4 linked regions of the Homo sapiens genome follow. The protein of the gene in region 1 purifies or fractionates together with the protein of each later gene. This does not show direct contact. Each region holds a gene or a part of one and is shown on either strand. Other genes may lie near its edges. The genes, in order: SMTN, PROZ, FAM170A and P4HA2.

Region 1 (5,518 bases):
TCTTGACAGGGGACTGGGGCACTAGTGCTCTAAGACTAGGGCAAGAGGGTGCCAGGCTCCAGCCCTGAGGCATGTGTGGCAGCTGCCTTGGCAGCCCCTGGCATGACCCAGGCCCCAGCCCCCAGCTCCCTGCCGCCCTGCACCCTGGCCAGACCAAGCCTCCCTGAAACAGCTGCCACCTCAGCTCTCCTTACCCTTATAGCAGACGGAGAGGCCCTGCCAGGAGAGGAAGGGCCATAATAGTTGGCTTGGGGCCTTGTCTTCAAGGGGCTAGGGAGATGCCCTGGGAGGGCTGCAGGGCTAGAGACTCCTTAGAGGATGGTTTCCAGCAGGGGCGAGGCAGGGGGAGGTGGTACAGAGGAGAGCTTCATAGAGGTCTTGGCTCAGGGCAGCCCCAGTCAGACACCTGGTCAGGAGCCTACAGGCCCCGGGCCAGCCCTCTTGGCAAGGTAGCAGGCAGATGGGGGGCAACATGTGCTGCCTGGGCACTGGCCCAGGAGGACCTAGGCCTCGGGAACTGGCAGCACAGAGCAGAGCCTGCCTGGGAGGGGGCTGGGAACAAAGCAGCAAAATGAACTAAGGTTCAGGAGTTAGGCTGCCTTCAGCTCAGATCCCAGGCTGCATCACACTTAGAGAGAGACTGTGGGCAAGTCAGTTAGCTGCCCTGAGCCTCAGTTTCCCCTTCTGTTTTTTTTTTTTTTTTTTCCGGTCTTGTTTTCTTTGCAACAGGGTCTTACTCTCTTGCCCAGACTGGAGTGCAGCTGCATGATCATAGCTCTCTGCAGCCTCTAACTCCTGGGCTCAAGTAATCCTCCTACCTCAGCTTTCTGAGTAGGTGGGACTACAGGTGCACACCACCATGCCTAGCTAATTTTTTATTTTTGTTTTTGTAGAGATGCGGTCTCGCTATGTTACCCAGGTTGGTCTCAAACTGCTGGCAACAAGTGATCCCTCCCACCTCGGCCTCCCAAACTGTTGACATTACAGGCATGAGCCACTGCGCCCGGCCTTCCCTTCTGTTAAATAGGGACAGTAAAGTCCCTAGTGTTTATACAACACTTACTATGGACTGGAAATCATCATTATTATCACTATCCATTGTATTAATACAATTCGGGGTACGTGGGAAGCCCTACAACAAAACTGTCAGTGCCTCTTCCCTGACTGACGCTGACATGGCCATCTTTGGGCAGGCAGGCTGGCAGGCTAGTGGTTATTTCCAAGGCGTGCCAGCAACCCTAGGATCTGCTTCCCTATCCATTGGAGACATGATGAGTTTCACCCATACCCCTGCTTAAAGTCCATGCCCTCTCCCCACCCTGCAGATGGAAGCAGAGCCAGCAGAGCCTCTCGCTGCAGCAGTGGAAGCGGCCAATGGGGCTGAGCAGACCCGAGTGAACAAAGCACCAGAAGGGCGGAGCCCTCTGAGCGCTGAGGAGCTGATGACTATTGAGGATGAAGGAGTCTTGGACAAGATGGTATAGCCAGATCCGGTGGGCTGGGGGTTGGCAGAGGCCAGCAGGCACCAGGTAGGCAATGATGGGCTCTATATGCAGCTGGATCAGAGCACGGACTTTGAAGAGCGGAAGCTCATCCGGGCTGCACTTCGTGAGCTCCGACAAAGGAAGAGAGGTAGAGAGCCAGTTGCCCTACCCTAGATCCAGCTGCCCCATTCCCCAGCTGCTCCCCTCATACTCTGGGGTCCATTTGTGGACACCCCAGCTTAATAACTGCCCTACCCAGCTTCTCCTTCTCTAGACCCAGCAGTTCCCTTGGCTATTCCCTGCTGGATCCAGCTGCTCCTTCCCTAGCTCCTTCTCTCCCGCTGGTGACCCCAGTTATTCTCCCCAACCAGCTTCTCTTCTCCTTCCTAGACCCAGATACTCCCTCCCGCAGCTACTCTCTCCTTGGATCCAGTTGCCTCTCAAAGTACTGTCAACGACTCCTTCCCTGAATCCAGATACTCCTTCTCCCTGCTGCTCCTCTCTCCCTGAAGTCCATTGATGGCCATCTTAGCCTCTGCCCCATCCAGCTTCCCTTTTCCTGGACACAACTACTTCCTCCCCCAGATAGTTCTTCCCTGGACACATCTATTCATTCCCTTAGATTCTGGGTTCAATTGCTTCTCCTCTCAAACACTCTCAATTACTCCTCTGAATCTAGCTGCTTCTGCCAGGGCCCACTGATGGCCACCCCAGTCTCTATCTCTACCCACCTACTTCTATTTTAAGCCCAGTTAACCCCCTTCACTAGCTTCTCTCCCAGCTACTCTTCCCCTGGATCAGATTGCTTCTCAGATCCCATCAATTGCTCCCTTCCTGGATCTAAATATTCCTGCCTCCAGCTGCTCTTCTCCTCCAACCAAAGACCTGCTGATGGCCCACCCAGCTACTTCCTCACTCAGCTTCTCCTTCCTTGGACTCAGCTACCCCCTCACTAGATCTAGATACCCCTCCTGACTTAGCTACTCATGCCTATAGAAACCCTTTTTGGATCCATACCCCTTTGAGTTTAGCTACTCCGTATTCTCTAGTTTCTGCCTGAGTCCATCAAACCCTTCCCACACTCCATTCCCTGTCAAGTTATGGCTGTCCCCTCACCCCAGCTGCTCCTAGAGAGGCCCTTGTTACCTGTGTCATTCATGTTTCTAACAAGCCACCCTCCACCCCGTCTTGTGTGCCCCATGCACCTGTGCATCTGTGCTGTGTGGGTGTTGGTGGCCCTTTTGCGCATGCATGGGGCATCCCCTGCCCAGACCAGCGGGACAAGGAGCGGGAACGGCGGCTGCAGGAGGCACGGGGCCGGCCAGGGGAGGGGCGCGGCAACACAGCCACTGAGACCACCACGAGGCACAGCCAGCGGGCAGCTGATGGCTCTGCTGTCAGCACTGTTACCAAGACTGAGCGGCTCGTCCACTCCAGTAAGGGGCCAAATGGGGCCGGCCCAGGGCTCAGGGTGGGAACACATCCTCCCCCAGCCCCCTGTGCCTTTCACATCCTTCTCATCCCCTGCCCCTGCAGATGATGGCACACGGACGGCCCGCACCACCACAGTGGAGTCGAGTTTCGTGAGGCGCTCGGAGAGTAAGGCCACCTGGTGTCGCCCTGTGCCTGCCTGCCTGTCCGCCCACCTCCTCCGGCTCTTCCTTGAGCTCTCTCTCCGTGTCTTCAACTGTGCCGTCACTTTCTCTTCTCTGCCTGCGGCTATCACCACCCCTCCATACAGCCTCCCATCCCATCTCCTGATGTCCAGCCCAGGCCCTCACCTGGTGCCCCTTCCCCTTTTTTGCAGATGGCAGTGGCAGCACCATGATGCAAACCAAGACCTTCTCCTCTTCCTCCTCATCCAAGAAGATGGGCAGGTGAGCACCAGCACCCAATCCCTGACCATAGAGGAGTCAGTGCCACAGGGGACCTAACTGCAAACCCGTTTTACAGAGGGGTGGGCTGGGCACAGTGGCTCTTGCCTGTAATCCCAGCACTTTGGGAGGCCGAGGTGGGCGGATCACTTGAGGTCAGGAGTTCAAGACCAGCCTGGCCAACATGGTAAAACCTCATCTCTACTAAAAATACAAAAATTAGCCGGGCGTGGTGGCAGGCACCTGTAATCCCAACTACTGGGGAGGCCGAGGCACAAGAATCACTTGAACCTGGGAGGCGGAGGTTGCAGTGAGCTGAGATCACTCCACTGCACTCCAGTCTGGGCAACAGAGCGAGACTCAGTCTCAAAAATAAATAGATAAATAAATAAATAAATAAATAAATAAATAAATAAAACAGAGGGGTAGACTGGGATGCTGGGAGGTAATAGGTCTATAGCCAGGGAGGGGCAAAGTGAGAGTTAAGGATCCTGCTCTCCTTGGGATCTCATTTTATTCTCAACCACACCACAGGAGAGGTGGATGCTCAGGGAGGCCAGTGAGTTGCTTAGGGGCTCACATCTCTGAGTGGCTGCAATAGCATTGAACACTTACAGAGGCCTACCTACCACACTGAGCTGCCTGGTGGCACTGCCACTTCCCAGTATCTGCAAACCATGTCCCAGGTCACACAGCACCTTTATACCTTAGCCCCATGAGAAAGGAGGGTACCCCCATGTAACAGAGGCTGTTGGGGCTGGCAGAAAGCAGGAACAGGATCAGAATCCAGGATGAGAACCAAAGGGGTCCAGAGACTCTGAATCAGAGAGACCTTGTTCAAGTTCTAGTTCCGCCCATCACGTCCTCTGAAATCTTAGGCAAGTTACTGCCAGAGGTCTCAGTTTCCTCACCTTTAGTGGAATTGGTAAGGCCCCTCCCTGCTCTTGTGAAGTTTAAAATGGCACACAGGAAAGGATCAACAGAGATGAATTATTATTATTACTATTATTATGCTAGTCATCATTTTTATTATCGGATAGTGCCCAGAAGCTGAACTCCCCTGTAACTTGAGGGTACAATGAGGCTTCTCAGAGAACTACTCGTGGGTGGGGGAGGGGGAGGCGGAAACCTGTTGAAAACCTTGCTGTCATTTGAGACTCAGTGTACTCCTCTAAAATGCGTGTGATGAGGACGCCTCCCTCCCTGGCAGGCGTTTGTGGCAGTGGAGATACTAGTGTGCTACAAGACCCCCCCTCCTCCTCGCGAGTGGTGGTCCAGGCTGGGGAGCAGCCCTGCTCTCCCTGCCTAACATGCGCCTCCCCAACCCCTAGCATCTTCGACCGCGAGGACCAGGCCAGCCCACGGGCCGGCAGCCTGGCGGCGCTCGAGAAACGGCAGGCCGAGAAGAAGAAAGAGCTGATGAAGGCGCAGAGTCTGCCCAAGACCTCAGCCTCCCAGGCGCGCAAGGCCATGATTGAGAAGCTGGAGAAGGAGGGCGCGGCCGGGTGAGCTGCAGAAGTGGGCTGGGCAGTGGGGGGCGGGGCGTGATAGGCAGTGGGGGGCGGGGCTTGATAGTTGGCCCGGCAGAGGCGGGAAGACCGCGCGGCTAGATCTGTGGTGCAAAGGCCCGAAGGTCATGGAAGGCGGGGCCTGGGATCCACTGGGTGGGCCCACCGAGGCATGCCCCTTATAGTCGTGTGACCTGGTCCTGACACCGCCCCTACAGCAGCCCTGGCGGACCCCGCGCAGCCGTGCAGCGATCCACCAGCTTCGGGGTCCCCAACGCCAACAGCATCAAGCAGATGCTGCTGGACTGGTGTCGAGCCAAGACTCGCGGCTACGAGGTGAGCCCCGGGAGGCCAGGGGGCCTGGAGGCCTCCCCAGACCCCAGCTCAACACCTCCTTCTTAGCAGAGCTCCTATTACCCAGTACACTTCCTGCCACTGTGTGGCCTCACAGGGAACATGGAAAGGCTCTTGGGGTGAGGAAACTGAGGCTCAAAGAGGACACAAGGCAAGCCCTAGATTCCAGAATCAGTGATGAAGTAACAGGGCCTCTTGGGTGGTGGGCAGGGTTCAAGGCCGGATCCCACTCTTGGAGTCCCCTCCTTGTTGCTCTGTAGGAGGCCCTGAGTCAATTTCTCTAAATGAGGGAAGGAGT
Region 2 (5,518 bases), on another chromosome or scaffold:
CAATTAAACAGTGATTGTAACTGTAGTCCAAATGTTCAAAAAGTTAAGTAGAGACAAAAATACGTATTTTTAAAAACCTAAATTAAATTTTTGGATGACAGCTACAATATATGAGGTTAAACATCCACTGGCCAGGATGAATGGCAGATTAGACATTGCAGAAGAACAGATTGATGACCTTGAAGGCATCACAACAGAAACTATCAAAAGTAAAACACGGAGAGAACGGAGATTTTTGAAAAATGAACAGACCATCTCTGAGCTATGGGATTTCAAACAGCTTAAGATACATGTAATTAGAGTCCCAAAACAGAGCAGGGAGAAGGAGGAGAGAAAAAAAATCTGAAAATAATGGGCCAGGCATGGTGGCTCACGCCTATAATCCCAGCACTTTGGGAGGCTGAGGTGGAAGGATTGCTTGAGCCCAGGAGTTTGAGACCAGCCTGAGCAACATAGCAAGACCCCATCTCTACATGAAATTTAAAAATTAGCTGTGTGTGGTCGTGCACACCTATGGTCCCAGCTACTCAAGACGCTGAGGTGGGAGGATCACCTGAACCCAGGAGGTTGAGGCTGCAGTGAGCCATGATCACACCACTACACTCCAGCCCAGGCAATAGGGCGAGACCCGGTCTCAAAAAAAAGAAAATTATGACCAAATATTTTTCAAATTTGACAAGCGATATTAGCCCACAAATACAAGAATCTCAACAAACCCTATGTGCAAGAAACATGAAAACAATACACAGTATAATTAAATTCAAAATCCATGATAGAGGAAATCTTAGAAAGTTAAAATTAAAAAGCATTTAAAATCTTAAAAGTGCCACAGGTAAGGACATGTGAGGAACAGCAGCAGGGTGATGGGAGCCGTCTTGTGGCACAAGGCAGACAGGAAGGCAGTGGGGCAGGCCCAAGTGCAGAGAGGAGAGGACTGCTGCCAGCCTGGGGCTCTGCGCCAGACGCAATGCCTTTCATAGATGAAGATGAACAAAGACTCCTCCAGACAAACGCAAGAAGGCTTCTTCCCCAGACGCCTCACAGCACAGCAGATATCAAAGGGGCCCTTTAGGCAGGAGGAAAACGATACCAGAGGGAGGCCTGGATTTACACAAAGCAGCAAGGAACACTGGAAAAGGTTATGACATCCCATTAAATATTTATCCGCATTCCACTATATATGTAAGGTTTTTTTCCTTATTCTTTAAACTTCTTTACAGGATACTGTTTAAACAAAAATAATGGAAGTATAGAGTGGCATTTATAACATCTGTAGATGTAAGACCTATGCCAAAACCAGCACCCAGGTCAGGAGGGGAGGAATGGGGCATGATTGCTGTAAGGACTCATGCTACAGCGAGCGGATGTGGCGTCGGCGAAAGTGGAGTGGACTGTGATAGGGTAAAGATGCATTCTCCAAACTGTGAAGCAACCGCCAACAAAGAACCAGAGATGATAAACCAACAAAGGAGAGAAAACAGAATCATAACAATATATAGTTAATCTAACAGAAGGCAGAAAAAGGGGAAAAGAACAGATAAGAAAAATAAAAGATAGCAAGATGATAGCTTTAACCGTAAACATATCGACAATTACAATAAATGTAAAATGGCCTAAATACCCCAATTAAAAGGCAGAGGTTTTTCACACTGGATAAAAATGAAAGCCAATTATATACTACCTATAAAACATGTACCTTATTTATTTTTTAAACATGCACTTTATAAAAATACAAATAGGCTAAAAGTAGAAGATTGGAAAAAGATAAGTCATGCTAACACTAATAATTAGAAAGTAAAGTGTCTATATCAATATCAGACAAAGGGGATTTTAGAGCAAATAATATTACCAGGGATACAAAAGGAGAAAACGAGAAGTTGTTTGAAAGATTAAATGAAATAAAGCATGTGCCCACATAGCACGGGTACTGGCTCTGGAAGTGTTAAGTGTTGCAGTTTTCAACCGTCTAATGCAAAATGCTGAGCCAAGTGAGAAAGTGTTTTTCCAACTTTACCGTGGCGTCGTTCCTGGAACTCTTCATGTGTTTATGAATAATAGCTGCCACTTGTTGAATACCTACCATAAGTCAAGAACGTTATCTGTAATCCTCACTGCACCTCTAGGGGTGAGATCCTCACTTTAAAGGGGATAAAACCAAGTTCGAGAGAAGACGGCACTTGCGCCATCAGTCTGCCAGACTTTTAGTGATACTTCTTCCCTAGGATGTAAGAAACAAGGAAGTTCTAAAGATAATCTTCAACCCTATGTCCTGCTAGGTCACTTAATTATTCTCCTTTTCAAAGTTTGTTTTAGGAAAATTCCATATATTCAGTTAAATAACTTCAGAACAATTTATAATACTGAAGTAAAAAATCTAATAGTATGTAGCCTGCCTAAGTCAGTGTCCTCTGTCTTAAACACACCAGCTGTGTTTAGAGAATGCCTCCTCCCTGGTTATATGGCTCTTAGCCTTGCTGGTATGAGTGCTACGGTTGCAGACTAGAACCGCACCCTCTCTTCCCTTGGGTAAGCTGGGAAGCTGGAGACAGCCTGCAGGTGGTAGAGCCAGACCCTGTCACTACCTATGGAGGACCACTGCACTCTGGGCCTCCCAAGTACCGACCCTCAGCGCACTCATGGGGCAGACAGCGATAGGAAGAACTGTCTTAGAAAGCTTGGGCAGGAAAAGTGATAAAAGATTGAGAGGAAGTTTGCAAAGCTGGTGATAGACCATTCCCGCTTCCATCCCCGCCTTCCATCACTCCGTCTGCTTTGCCTCCCTTCGGTTTCTTCCTCTCCACCTTGGAGCTGGGTGGCTTCAAGTCCTTGAGCTCCATCCTGTTCTCTGCCAGTCCACACAACTGCCAGAATGAGTGGGCTGGGCACAGCTGTCTTGTAAGAGTCGGGTGAAACTGACGGGTGTCACACACAGAAACCTCAGGGGCTTATTACTCACAAGGGGGGCCCCTGAGGCTGTGCCATCCACACGGCAGCCACACTCGGGTACGGAGCATTGTGGACACGAGGGCTGCACCTCAGTGTAAATTCACACCAGATTCCAAAGATTCAGTGTAAAGGAAAAAGGCAAATAACCTCAATAATGTTTATATTCATTACATGGGGAAATAATGACACATATTGGGTTAAATATCCAAATTTCACATGCTTTTACTTACATTATTGTGGCTACTAGAAAATTTTAAATTATGTGGTTTACACTGCATTTCTATTGGACAAGGCTGTTCTGAAGGATATACTCAGGCAGGAGATAATTGTGTTAGAGGCCTGAAAGGCAAGGAAAGTGGAAAATGAGGTAAGTAAATCAAAGCCAGTGTGGGTGGTATAAAACCATAATAACAAAAATCGTAATATCTATTTTGTGAAGATATACAGAAAGCAAGAAAAGAATAAAATACTGGCCAGACAGCAAATGGACCCAGAATGAGGTGCTGGGAATTAGCCTGAGGAGGGAGAAATAGCTGACTACTTGTGCTAAATATGGATGTTTATGTGTCAAGAGTGACCATTAAGTAAACAGAAAGTGAATGATGAGGCCAGGCGTGGTGGCTCACGCCTGTAATCCCAGCACTTTGGGAGGCCAAGGCAGGTGGGTCACTTGAGGTCAGGCATTCGAGACCATCCTGTCCAACATGGTGAAACCCCGTCTCTACTAAAAATATAAAAATCAGCCGGGCGTGGTGGCACATTCCTGTAATCCCAGCTACTCAGGAGGTGGAGGCAGGGAAAGCGCTTGTGCCCAGGAGGCAGAGGTTGCAGTGAGCCGGGACTGGACCACTGCACTCCAGGCTGGGTGACAGATTGAGACTCCATCTCAAAAAAAACAAACCAAAAACAAATGAATGGTTAACTTCTAAACCAGCCAAGGAGGGGAAAAGGAGAACAAAAATGAATGCCAAACTAGAGAAATTTAGTGAACAAAGTAACAAAGCTAGAATGCCAGGCCAGCAGCCGAGAGCAGAGATTTTGAGATGCTTATGTTCTGAGAAAATGACATTGGTAACAGTTTGGAACTGCAGAGGAAAGGTCTTGGGGGCTGTAAATAATGCTGTCCTTTTGTATTAGTTATGAACTCGGCATTAGAACATGGTTGGAAGTGTGAATAGAGGTTGGTCAGTGCAGTCAGTAGCCCATCAAAGTCAGGATGCCTGATTCACTTAGTTGTCAACATTTCTATTTAGGAAATGACAAGTGAGGTGAAAGTCATAACAATAAATTGAAGCACGCGGAGAGCGCTCTGTTACCTGCCACGGGAGGTCCTGTAGATCCGGTGCACGCTTCTCAGAGGTCAGCACCCCGCAGGCACACTGGTCTGCATTTGCGGCAGCAACATGAGAATAAAAATCAGCGCCTTCTCAGCGAATATCGGACTCTGTCTATGGTGTTAACCGTTGCATAATTCCGTCTATGGTACTAACCATTATAATCTTATCCTTAATGCTGATGAATGTGCAGTAATTCACAGACACACAGACTGGAGTTAAACCACCCCTCACAGCACTCATGGTTTAGCTCAGAGTGGTCCGAGCAAGCACTAGTGACAGAAACTGCACTTTCTAGCATGGCCATTGCTCCAGCGTGGAGACGCGGACCACCTTCTGAGTCGTGGCAACTGCTTATCACAAATCCGCGGGCTTCACCCAGTACTACAGAAGGAAGGAGGATGTGGACGGGGTCGCTGGCATTGGAAGCTGGAGGCCGCTGTGGTCTGAGCACTCACCGTGGGGCACACACTGTTTGTGGTCCTCACCAAGCCTGTAGCCCTGAGCACAGCTGCATGTGTAGGATTCCTGTCCTGGGAGGCAGAAGTGTTGACACCCATCAGTCCGCTCTGGGTGACATTCATTTTTAGCTGAAAAGGAAAAAAAAAAAAGGAAATGCTAGCTTGGAAATAGTCATTTTATCACAGCCTTGCACACAGTTCTGTGTGTTGGTCCATGTTCATTTTATCACAGCCTTGCACACAAGAGTTCTGGTGTGTTGGTCCATGTGTTCTCATTCTCTTCAGATCGTTGTCCTCTGTGTCAGTGTTTCCCACATGTCCGTATTTCAGGAATGTGCATGTAGAACAAAGACTCCGTGAGTGAGGCCGGGCGCGGTGGCTCATGCCTGTAATCCCAGCACTTTGGGAGGCCGAGGTGGGCGGATCACGAGGTCAGGAGATCAAGACCAGCCTGGCCAACATGGTGAAACCCCATCTCTACTAAAAATACAAAAATTAGCCAGGCGTGGTGGCGCGTGCCTGTAGTCCCAGTTACTCGGGAGGCTGAGGCAGGAGAATCACTTGAACCCAGGAGGCAAAAGGTTGCAGTGAGCTGACATCGCGTCACTGCACTCCAGCCTGGCGACAGAGCGAGACTCCATCTCAAAAATAAAATAAAAATTAAAAAAAAAAAAAGACTCCATGAGTGATGACACTTCTATTTGTCCTTTTTCCACATGGACTAATCCACGCGCCTGTTTTGTCTGCCGGCTTGCATTGGCTATTCCCTTTAAATTG
Region 3 (5,783 bases), on another chromosome or scaffold:
CAGTGGTGGGGTCTGCGGGGTGAACTTCCTATCACCATGCCTGGGCCTGGGCAACACTCAATACACATAACAGTGTATACCGAATTTTTGTTAAGGGTATTCCAGGAGACAGTCACTCATATGCCCATATATACTCTGATACAGAGAAAGAGTCACACACCTCCACACACAGTGGATATAGTTATATACACATACCGTTCCTCTATTACATACTCACACAACCCATGTGTGTGACAGTCTTTTCTTCCTACAGAGATTTCTTGTGTGTGGGGAGTGTGTGTGTGTGTCTCCTCAACTCTCACACAAACACATCTATGTTAAACTATCTCTAAATACCTCTTTAAGAGCCAGTCACACATCATACATGCCATATCTGCAACACATTGTGTAGCAGAGCCAGGCCTGCTTTGCATAGACCACAACGAAACAAAGATTCACCACCATCCCCTTATTAGGGTTGCCGGATAAAATACAGGATGTTCAGTTAAACTTGAATATCAGATAAACCACCAATGATTTTTTAGTATAAGTGTGTCCCAAATATTTTATGGAACATACTGACACTAAAAATAAGTATGACAAATATTGCACGGGACATACTTACGCTAAAAAAATTATTTGTAATTTATCTAAAATTCAAATTTAACTTGGCATCAGCTATTTTTGTTTGCTAAATCTGATGACCCTTATAAATTCATAATGAGCTGACCTATGATATACTTATATATTTCTGCTTAATGTCTGTCTTCCTTGTCTAGAATGGAAAGTCCACTTAGAAGAAGGACTGTTTTGTTCAGTATTCCTAGAGCCTAGAAGAGTGGACTGGTGTCTGATTCATGGTAGCTGTTCATGAAAATATTGCCAGATGAATGAATTAATGTACATTATAAATACAAGCCACACCATACAATCAGGAAAAATTACATATTGCATAATTTCAGGGTTGTAAACACAAAACTATGCACACAAACTCCACAGACACAGACACATGTTTCTACAATATACCCACACAAATCTACACATATCAAAGGCTATCTGGTATGTATCACTCTTACGCTTCAGACGTACTCATAGTCACCACACAGGCCTATGTTCCTATTGATACACTATCAAAATACCTGTTGACTGTAATTAAATACTGGAGTATCCACCAGAAGCCTGTCTCACAAACCATGTGTGTTCACTACACCTGACATAGGTCAGCCACTCAGTAAATATTTGTTGGATGGTAAATGATGCACAAACATTACCCATCCATCATATCTCTGTTCCCTTCATACCTTTCTCAGGAATGTCAAAGTCCCAAGAGGATGCCCTGCAGCCTGGATCCACTAGAGTGGCCAAAGGCTGGAGCCAAGGGGTGGGAGAAGTTACTTCTACCTCCGAATACTGCTCCTGCGTTTCTTCTTCACGCAAGCTCATCCACAGTGGTAAGGGTGCAGGGTTCCTTCGGCACGTGGCTCCTTGGCTGTGGGGTTCATTGGGCATGAAAATATTTGAGTGTGGGGCTCTGTGGGCATGAGACTCTTTGGTTGCAGTGCTGCTTGGGTGTAAGACTCTTTGGGAGTGGGGCTTTTTGGGTTTGGGGCTCCTTCGGTGTGACAGTCTTTGGGTGTGGGGCTCCTTGGATGTGACATTCTCTGGGTGTGAGGTTCCTTGAGCATGAGACTCTGGATGCAGGGCGCTATGGGTATGTGACTCTTTGGGTGCTGGACTCCTTAGGCATGGGATTGGGTGCAGGGCTCCTTGGGTAGGGGGCAGGAGGCCCATAGATCCAAGGATGAGGCTAAGAAGAAACCCAGGGCAGTTGGATATGATCAGAGCTCTGCAGAGGTGTCTGGGCAAGATGACAGAGCTGTTAGAAGAGCATGGATATAAGCTCAGTGTAGGAGAGCATGAGCCCTGGTGTGCAGTCAGGCAGTCAGGGAGCAGAGGCCAGAAAAGTCTGCTGTTGGGGTGTAGGGCCACAGGACCAGATTAAGCACTTTCATCGGAACTATTTGGGCTCTGCCTTTGCCTTCCAGAGAAAGACAGATTTCCTCAGCCCAGGCCTCCAGCACTGCAGCGGGACTCTAGCTCAGGCCCACACACCTCACACATACAGCCACACGCTCCACAGGTACACTTTCTGCACACACACCACCCAAATGCATGACCTGCAGTGCCATTCTCCCACACTACCTCCCACATTCCACAAATAACACATCAATGATGGCACCAACTCACATCCTCATAGCACACACATGCTGCCGACATTCCACATATGCTGCAGTCCTCACCACCATACTCCACACCCCTGTATATGGACACCCCACCAACATCCCTACACGCAAATGACACTAGAATCACTACCCCACAATATGAACAACAAATACCAAGCTCACTACACAGCTGCATCTCACCACAGTCCCTGTCTCCTGCACCACACATATTTAACTTACGTTCCCTCAGCTCCTAGCATGGCCCATGCATCTGCTCATGTTTCTAATTTCCTTTCCCAGGAATCCAGAGAATACATCGAGACAGCCCCCAGCCTCAATCACCCCTGGCCCAGGTTCAGGAACGAGGAGAGACTCCTCCCCGCTCACAACATGTCTCCTTGTCGTCCTATTCATCCTATAAGACTTGTGTGTCCTCTCTGTGTGTAAACAAAGAGGAAAGGGGCATGAAAATATACTACATGCAGGTACAAATGAACAAAGGTGTGGCTGTCTCCTGGGAGACAGAGGAAACTTTGGAGTCCTTAGAAAAGCAGCCAAGGATGGAAGAAGTGACCCTTTCTGAGGTTGTGAGGGTAGGTACTCCCCCCTCTGATGTGTCCACCAGAAACCTCCTGTCTGACAGTGAGCCCAGTGGGGAGGAGAAAGAGCATGAGGAAAGGACAGAATCAGACAGCCTGCCAGGCTCACCCACCGTTGAGGACACACCCAGAGCCAAGACTCCTGACTGGCTGGTGACCATGGAGAACGGCTTCAGGTGCATGGCCTGCTGCCGGGTGTTCACCACCATGGAAGCCCTCCAGGAGCATGTGCAGTTTGGGATCAGAGAGGGCTTCAGCTGCCACGTCTTTCATCTCACCATGGCTCAGCTGACAGGCAACATGGAATCAGAGAGCACCCAAGATGAGCAGGAGGAGGAAAATGGAAATGAGAAGGAGGAGGAAGAGAAACCAGAAGCAAAGGAGGAGGAGGGGCAGCCCACAGAAGAAGACCTTGGCCTGAGGAGATCCTGGAGCCAATGTCCAGGCTGTGTGTTTCATTCTCCAAAGGACAGGAAGTGAGCAAAGCCTGGGTTGTGGGTCTGCTGAGGGAGCAATGGCTTCCCCGAGCCAGTACTGTCTCCCCAGTTCAGGCTTAGGTCTCTGTAAGGAAGATTTGGGGGCTTTATTGGCTCAGGGAACAATGGAGGGGGACATAACTGGGATCCCTGCTTCTTGCCTAGGCATCTAATAAAGTCTCGATTGTAAGTCAGGATTTGTCTTGACCTTTCCAGCTCCTGCAGGAAATTCTGAGAATTTCAAAAGTCGCATTAACTAAGAAGTGTCTTTCTTTGGTTTGATTTTCACACAGCAGCTGAGACTTATGGGCCAGAAGATACTGGAAGATGGTGTGGCCTTCTCTTGCAAGAGGTAAGGAGTGAGACTTGCAGTTTTCTGAGGCTGTGTTGTGAGGGCCCAGAGGAATCCAAGGGAAGGAGCTGCAGGGATGCACTGGGTCACCTGGTGGCTCTGCAGCCACATCAACTTATCGTGCACCTGGTGCTTCTGGGGGAATTGTCCTCCATTTGCTTAGATGACAAGGTGAAGAGCATTGACTGGGAACTTTCTCAATGTCTGCATGATTGTCCTCAATTCTAAGAGGAGGTGCTGCAGCTCTTCTAGGCAGCGGAAGCTCAGTGTAACCTCAAGGGCCAGGATTGGCCTGAAAGGACAGGATGCCAGCAAGATCAGAGGTGTGGAGTCTGAGAGCCTTTGGCCTGAGCTGGGATCCCACCTGAGCCCATAGATATAGCCCTTGGGGAAAAGGGGAATTTGGAGAGGTAACAACATCATCCTGATGAGACACCAAGAGAACTGGAAATGTTTCAGAACCTTCATTTTGCTGCATTTGATCTGGAAATGAACTCACTGTGGGTTGCATGACTCTGAGCTTCAAAACAAAGGTGAAGGGTAACTGACTAGCAATGCTTGTATTGTTTCTTGCCTCTTCCTCTTCTGCCTCAATTGTTTTCTTCACTTCCAGGGAGAAGAAAGAGCCATGGAGATAGTAGCAGACAGGCTGCCCAAGGTATGAAGCAGATGAGGGACCAGCACTCAGTCTAACATGTAAACATCATACGTAATAAAGGTTGTGTTTCAAACCTTACCTGGATATATTATTTAATTAACAAATTAATCTACCTATCTATTCATCATTTTCTTTTTTTTTCCTTTTTCTTTTTCTTCTTCTTCTTCTTTTTTTTTTTTTGAGATGGAGTTTCATTTTTGTTGCCCAGGCTGGAGTGCGATGGCATGATCTCGGCTCACTGCAACCTCTGCCTCCTGAATTAAAGTGATTCTCCTGCCTCAGCCTCCCAAGTAGCTGGGATTACAGGCATGTGCCAGCACACACAGCTAATTTTGTATTTTTTTAGTAGAGATGAGGTTTCACCATGTTGGTCAGGCTGGTCTCGAACTCCTGGGCTCAAGTGTTCTACCCGCCTGGGCCTCCCAAAGTGCTGGGTTTGCAGGCGTGAGCCACGGCGCCCAGCCCTATTCATTATTTTCATCTATCTCTCCAGTGGTTTGTGAACGAAGTTTTACATCAGCACTAAAGATATCTACCAGCCTTTTCCAGAGGCAGCAATAGCCAAGCTCCTGGGTTTGATTAGACTTCTGTGTGACAATTTTTTCAAGGCTGGATATCACATTTCATATGAGACCATGACAAACTCCACTACATACCTATGTTTCCATCATCCCGCTTTATTAAGCTTAGCATTTTTCTACGTTTGCTTCAGATGGCTTTGAAGTAAAAATGATTACAAATACAGCCATAGTCCCCTGTTCCATTGCCTTACATATGGATTTTGAGTATTTTTTAATACTTCTGTGCATGTTTTATACTATTATATAAATATATAAAGTGTTTTGAATATCTTGAAAGTTTCACATACTATTGTACTTCATTATTAGTTTTCAACTTGTTTTTATTAAAAAACAGGTTTTTAAGATTATCCATTGTCATACACATATCTGTAGTTAACTAATTTTTACTACTGTATTATAGTTCATTCTATGAATATGCCAACTTTTTATTTATTGTCTTTTTGATGAAATTTCAGTTGCATCCAAATTTCCTCTATTACCACAGAATGTGTGTCTCTCTCTAGAATGTATACCCAGACATCCATTGCTGTGCTGAATTATATAGATATTTCAGTTTAGTAGTTACTGCCGTGGTGTATTTCTTTCTTTGTTCAAGCATTTTTTTTCTTTCTTCATTCTTCAATAATGATTAATGCTTTTCTGCACAAATGTTATATACAATTTTTATTCGATGCAGTCCAAGATATCTTTTCTTTTCATTCTCCTTGTAAATGGTATGTTTTTTCTATTATATCTTAGAATTGGTTATTACTGATGCATATTTTAAATTTTCATTTCACATCTAGCAACCTTTTTGAAATTTTTCAGGTGTAAGTATTTCTATATAGTATTCTGTATTTTTCTATATTCAATCATATTAAATACAAATAAAAAGAATTAGTTTTTTCCTTTTTATTTCTAGACGGCACTTTTATTT
Region 4 (4,698 bases), on another chromosome or scaffold:
TGAAAGATGTCAAATGGGGAACAAATCTTTTATGAACTAGAAACAGAAGAATAATTTTAAAACATGGCATATATACAAAACCAACAGCCAACTGCATTCTTAGCAGTAAAATACCATAGGAATTTCCAGGAAATTCAGGAATGAGACAAGGATGCCTATTCTACGTAATTATGCTCTAGAAGTTCTGGGCAATTCAATAAGGTTATAAAAACAAAGGAACTACAAGTATCAGGAGAAAATAAAATTTTCCTTATTTCCAGGTGTTAATGCTATCCAGGCAACCAAAGAGAAATCAGCTAAAAACCAAAAAAGAAATAAGTAAATTCAACCACTAGCTGCAATCTGTATGAGTTTGCTTTTTCATAGGTAAAACAGAGACAGTGACATCATTATGAGCAGCTGTTCATAACTGTGACATAACACTTAATATATATGTTAAGCACTTAGAAGTTCCTGCCACAGTTAAGAATTCAGTAAACATTAGCTCTTACTATGAAATGTATTTGTAAAATCAATAGTTTGGCATATAATAGTAAACTAATAAAATAATGTAACCAGTTAAAAATAATAATGAAGAAATAAAGTAAATTAACAGTAACAAAGAAACTACCAAGGAATAAACTTAAGAAATGTTCAAGGCTTATATGAAGAAAACTTAAAAAGATATGGAGAGACCTGTCATGCCCTTGGATGAGAAGACCCAATATTATAAAGATATACATTCTCCTCTAAGTCATTCACCTCATTTACAGTCCTAATCAGGAGCTCCACAGGACCCAGCTTCATAGCATCCTATGGAACATTTCCAAAAAACTCACCCACGCACCAGTCTCCCAACCAGGTGAACTGACACACCAGTGTAGACCTGCCCTGTTCCCAGCGTGACCTTCTATGATAGCACTTGGCTGTCCACATTGGTTACCCTGTTCTTCTTCCACTGGACCATGAACTCACAAGGTCAGGCTGAGTCTGAAGCATCTCTGTATCCCCACGGTAGGCCCATGCTAGATATGGATAAAGGGTGGCTAGATGGGCAAACCAACCACCCATAGTGCTAGGGATGAGAAAAAGGACCTTCCCCCTTCAGTGACCCGAGAAGGACCTACAGTGACACCTACTTTAGGTTTTGCGATCTCCTTGATCCTCTCGATTTCCTCATCAGACATGACATCGTAGTACCTGACGATGTGCGGGCTGTCCCACTCGTCCTCCTCTTTGAAGGGGGCAATGAGCAGCTGTGGGGCCCTGTTGCCATGGTGGTACCTACAGAAAAGCCTCTTCTGTCTACGGGGTGTCTGGAAAGCACAGAGTAACAGGCCCTGAGCTGAGTGAGTCCTAATCCTCGGTCCCAGTCTGGCTGTCTGCAGACACTGGACTCACCTCATGGCCAGCAGCTGCTCCCTCCCACCACACCACAGAAGAAAACAAAAGTCCCAGCAGGTGGGCATGCACAGTGGCTCATGCCTGTAATCCGAGAACTCTGGGGGGCCAAAGGATAGCTTGAGACCAGGAGTTTGGGACCAGCCTAGATGACATAGACCTGTCTCTAAAAAATTAGCCAGGCATGATGGTGCATACCTGTAGTCCCAGCTACTCAGGAGACTGAGGCAGGAGGATTGCTCAAGGCTGGGAGGTCAAAGCTGCAGTGAGCTATGATTATACCACTGCACACCAGCCTGGGCGACAGGGTGAGACGAAAGAAAGAAAAGAAAAGGAAAAAGAGGAAACAGGAAAAAGAGAAGAAAAAGGAAGGAAGAAAGGAAGGGAGGGAGGGAGGGGAGGAGAGAGGAGGAGAAGGGGGAGGGGAGGGGGAGGGGAGGGGGAGGGGAGGGGGGGAGGGGAGGAGAGGGGGGAATGGGGGGAGGGGAGAGGAGAGGAGAGCCCCTTCAGCTTAACTGGCATGAAATAACACCCCACAAATCATGCAATTTTTCTTCTCTCCCAAAATCACCTCACATCCTCAAGTCCCATGGCAGAAAGTAATTCCTGACCCTTTTCGTGAAGACTTGAGTAGGTCTGAAGGGCTGGGACAGGGGAGAAACCTTTCTTGGTGGAGGAGCCAGTAGAAGCCATGCAGACAGGGGCATGGAAAAGGCTCAGAGCCTGTCACACCTGGGCCTCCTCAGGAAGCACTAGGATCCCAGGGCTCTCAAAGGCTCGATACCAAGCTCTAGTACACGCTGGTGTCTTTACCACAGAGACTTACTCTCCACTTATACCATGACTTCTTTTGGGGCCTGAGGTACGTCCACCCATTGTTTTCTTCCCAACAGTGAGTGAAGCAAAAAGTGGGACATATTGGGGTAAGGAGGCGAGCTCACTGGTAACTTAGAGGAGCAACACTCTACCTGGGGCACGAGGGGAGAGAGTCTCCTTTCCTACACCTCAGAGAATATCCACATGTCAGCCTCAGGAGATGCCATGAAAAACTGGGGGATATACTGAGAAAAGTACCTACAGAATAAAGAACACCTTCCCCAAATCTGCCTGCCCAGAGCCAGAGTCCAGGTCCACAGCTTTGGCACCCTAGCCCCCTCACACATCTCACCAGTTTGACACCCTCCCCACGACAGAGGCTCTCGTAAACATCCCTCTCAGGCAGGTAGTCCACAGGCCTCTCATAGATGCCTTCTGGGGTTGCTAGCTCAGCTTCTGTCTGATTTGTTAACGTTTTTTCTCTCTCTTCCTCCAATAACTGCTCAAAGTACCGCAGATTCCCTCCAGCTCGTTCGTGGCTTGGGTCTAGAAAATGCAAGGAATGAGAAGGAAAAGGAAACCACAAACATCTGTTAGGTCATTTAGAGAAATTATTCTGTAAGGGTTTCTCTCCCAGCAGCTCACCTGCATGCTGCATTCTACCTTCCACAGCATCTAACCAGAGTACGCTGGTCGTAACTGGAAAACCAACAGAGGCCAGGTGCGGTGGCTCATACCTGCAATCCCAGCACTTTGGGAGGCCGAGGCGGGTGGATCACGTGAGGTCACGAGTTCGAGACCAGCCTGACCAACATGGTAAAACCTCATCTCTACTAAAGAAAATACAACATGGGGCATGTGCCTCTGTAATCCCAGCCACCTGGGAGGCTGAGGCAGGAAAATCTCATCAACCCGGGAGGCGGAGGTTACAGTGAGCTGAGATCGTGCCACTGCTCTCCAGGCTGGATGAGTGAGACTCTGTCTCAAAAAAAAAAAAAAAAAAAGGTAGATGAGTTTTAAAGGCACAGTGCTTTTGGCCTTCTTCAGTCCAACAGCACAAGGCACACAAAGTATCAATGCCATATGAAGTCCTACTATTAGACCTCAGGCCTCTAATAGCACCGCTACTGTTTGTCACTGTAACAATCCTAAAGTACAACCTGACTCCTGAGCTGCTCCTGATGTAGTAAAGGTTCCACCCTGTGTAGTCCTGCATGGTGACAGATACACCATAACAGAGTCCTTATTAAAAAGGCCCACAAGTGCCACAGGCCTGAGCGTATCTATCAGCGACTGCGCAAACCTAAGGCCAGGATTGAGGTGGGTAAGGAGCTAGTAAGAAGCTGGACTGGTCCTAAAGTCAGTAAGGCATTAGTCACTGGCCAAGTGACAGGGTAAACTGACTCAGTCCCAGGAGAGGGGTCAGGCAGATGCCAGCACAGTGCAGTTCCTCTGCCACTCTCCATTCCCATCTTACCTTCCCCTAGAATCTCCTTACCAAGGGAGAGCAGGCGGCGGGTGAGCTCCAGGGCACGGTGCAGATCACCCAACTGGAAGACAGCATAGCTGAGGTAGTCCAGCACCTGTGACTTGGTTGTGGTGGCCTCCTCCCCGGCATCAAGCTGCTTTAGCACCTGCTCCATCCACAACACCGTATGATAATAGTCCCCTTCATTGTAGGCCGAGCGGCCCATCCCAAAGCAGTCATCCACACTCAGCATTGCCTGGTACTTGGTTCCTACAGCAGGGGAAGTAAATTGTCAGGCTCCAAAGAGCCTCTGGATTAGGGAAAGAGATTCCCACTTCAAGGAAAGCCTGAGCCACTGGATAGGGGGCATCACCAAGCAGAACTCCATCGGACATTTAGACTGCATATCCTAAAGGGCCACTGACACAGTGAGCACAGACAGATGGCCCAGCCCTGCCCTGGACTGGGGTTCACAGCCACCTCTTAGCCTCAGATTCCCCATCTCCCAAGTGGGAAGGGGCCTTTTTAGGGGGAGCCCCAGAAACCCACCAGGAAGCATTGTTGAGGACAGTGGGAAGGTCCTGTGGACCACAGAGAAGAAGATGTCTGGTGGGCAGTTTGCCATATGAGTCTAGAGGATGGAAAAATTAGCTGAATATAAAAAACATAAATTTAGGTGGCAACCAAGCCATGGGTGAGGAAAATAGCTTGCAGGAACTCTGAGGAAAGAATGGAGAAGATGACTAAGGCCAGAGCTCCAGGGAGCACCTACCCAGAAAGAACAGACAATGAATAACCCTGAGAATGAACTAAAGATAGGAGAAACAGAGGGAGCGGGAGTGGTGTGAGAGACACCAAGGGAGGCCAAGAGCCAAGGTTGCAGTGCCAGCTTTGGCTGTTAAGTGGCAGGGACCTTGCTGAGTATCAGTTCAGTGGGTCTTATGACCAAAGGTCATCTGCTGTAGAGGGAGTGCTGGAAAGTGACCATGAAGATAGTTTCAAGCCAATATGAAGAAGCAGCTATAGGGAGATGC

Evidence for each region.
Region 2: the proteins of SMTN (region 1) and PROZ purify together in Homo sapiens (co-immunoprecipitation; one large-scale study listed by IntAct). This does not show direct contact.
Region 3: the proteins of SMTN (region 1) and FAM170A purify together in Homo sapiens (co-immunoprecipitation; one large-scale study listed by IntAct). This does not show direct contact.
Region 4: the proteins of SMTN (region 1) and P4HA2 purify together in Homo sapiens (co-immunoprecipitation; one large-scale study listed by IntAct). This does not show direct contact.

Annotation. Positions count from the first base shown.
Region 1 is NC_000022.11:31,093,978-31,099,495, forward strand, and holds part of SMTN (smoothelin), read left to right. Parts: intron 1-1,325; coding exon 1,326-1,478; intron 1,479-1,556; coding exon 1,557-1,632; intron 1,633-1,874; coding exon of another isoform or gene 1,875-1,954; exon of another isoform or gene 1,955-2,755; coding exon 2,756-2,920; intron 2,921-3,020; coding exon 3,021-3,083; coding exon of another isoform or gene 3,084-3,291; coding exon 3,292-3,361; intron 3,362-4,689; coding exon 4,690-4,863; intron 4,864-5,084; coding exon 5,085-5,202; intron 5,203-5,518. UniProt on the Homo sapiens protein: Structural protein of the cytoskeleton.
Region 2 is NC_000013.11:113,163,865-113,169,382, reverse strand, and holds part of PROZ (vitamin K-dependent protein Z isoform 2 precursor), read right to left. Parts: intron 4,871-5,518; coding exon 4,739-4,870; intron 4,382-4,738; exon of another isoform or gene 4,331-4,381; coding exon 4,263-4,330; exon of another isoform or gene 4,200-4,262; intron 3,286-4,199; coding exon of another isoform or gene 3,214-3,285; exon of another isoform or gene 3,144-3,213; intron 1-3,143. UniProt on the Homo sapiens protein: Appears to assist hemostasis by binding thrombin and promoting its association with phospholipid vesicles. Inhibits activity of the coagulation protease factor Xa in the presence of SERPINA10, calcium and phospholipids.
Region 3 is NC_000005.10:119,631,459-119,637,241, forward strand, and holds the end of FAM170A (protein FAM170A), read left to right. Parts: intron 1-1,289; coding exon 1,290-1,430; intron 1,431-2,501; coding exon 2,502-3,276; intron 3,277-3,569; coding exon 3,570-3,576; 3' UTR 3,577-3,628; intron 3,629-4,241; 3' UTR 4,242-4,364; downstream 4,365-5,783. UniProt on the Homo sapiens protein: Acts as a nuclear transcription factor that positively regulates the expression of heat shock genes. Binds to heat shock promoter elements (HSE).
Region 4 is NC_000005.10:132,206,590-132,211,287, forward strand, and holds part of P4HA2 (prolyl 4-hydroxylase subunit alpha-2 isoform 2 precursor), read right to left. Parts: intron 3,935-4,698; coding exon 3,695-3,934; intron 2,743-3,694; coding exon 2,549-2,742; intron 1,296-2,548; coding exon 1,119-1,295; intron 1-1,118. UniProt on the Homo sapiens protein: Catalyzes the post-translational formation of 4-hydroxyproline in -Xaa-Pro-Gly- sequences in collagens and other proteins.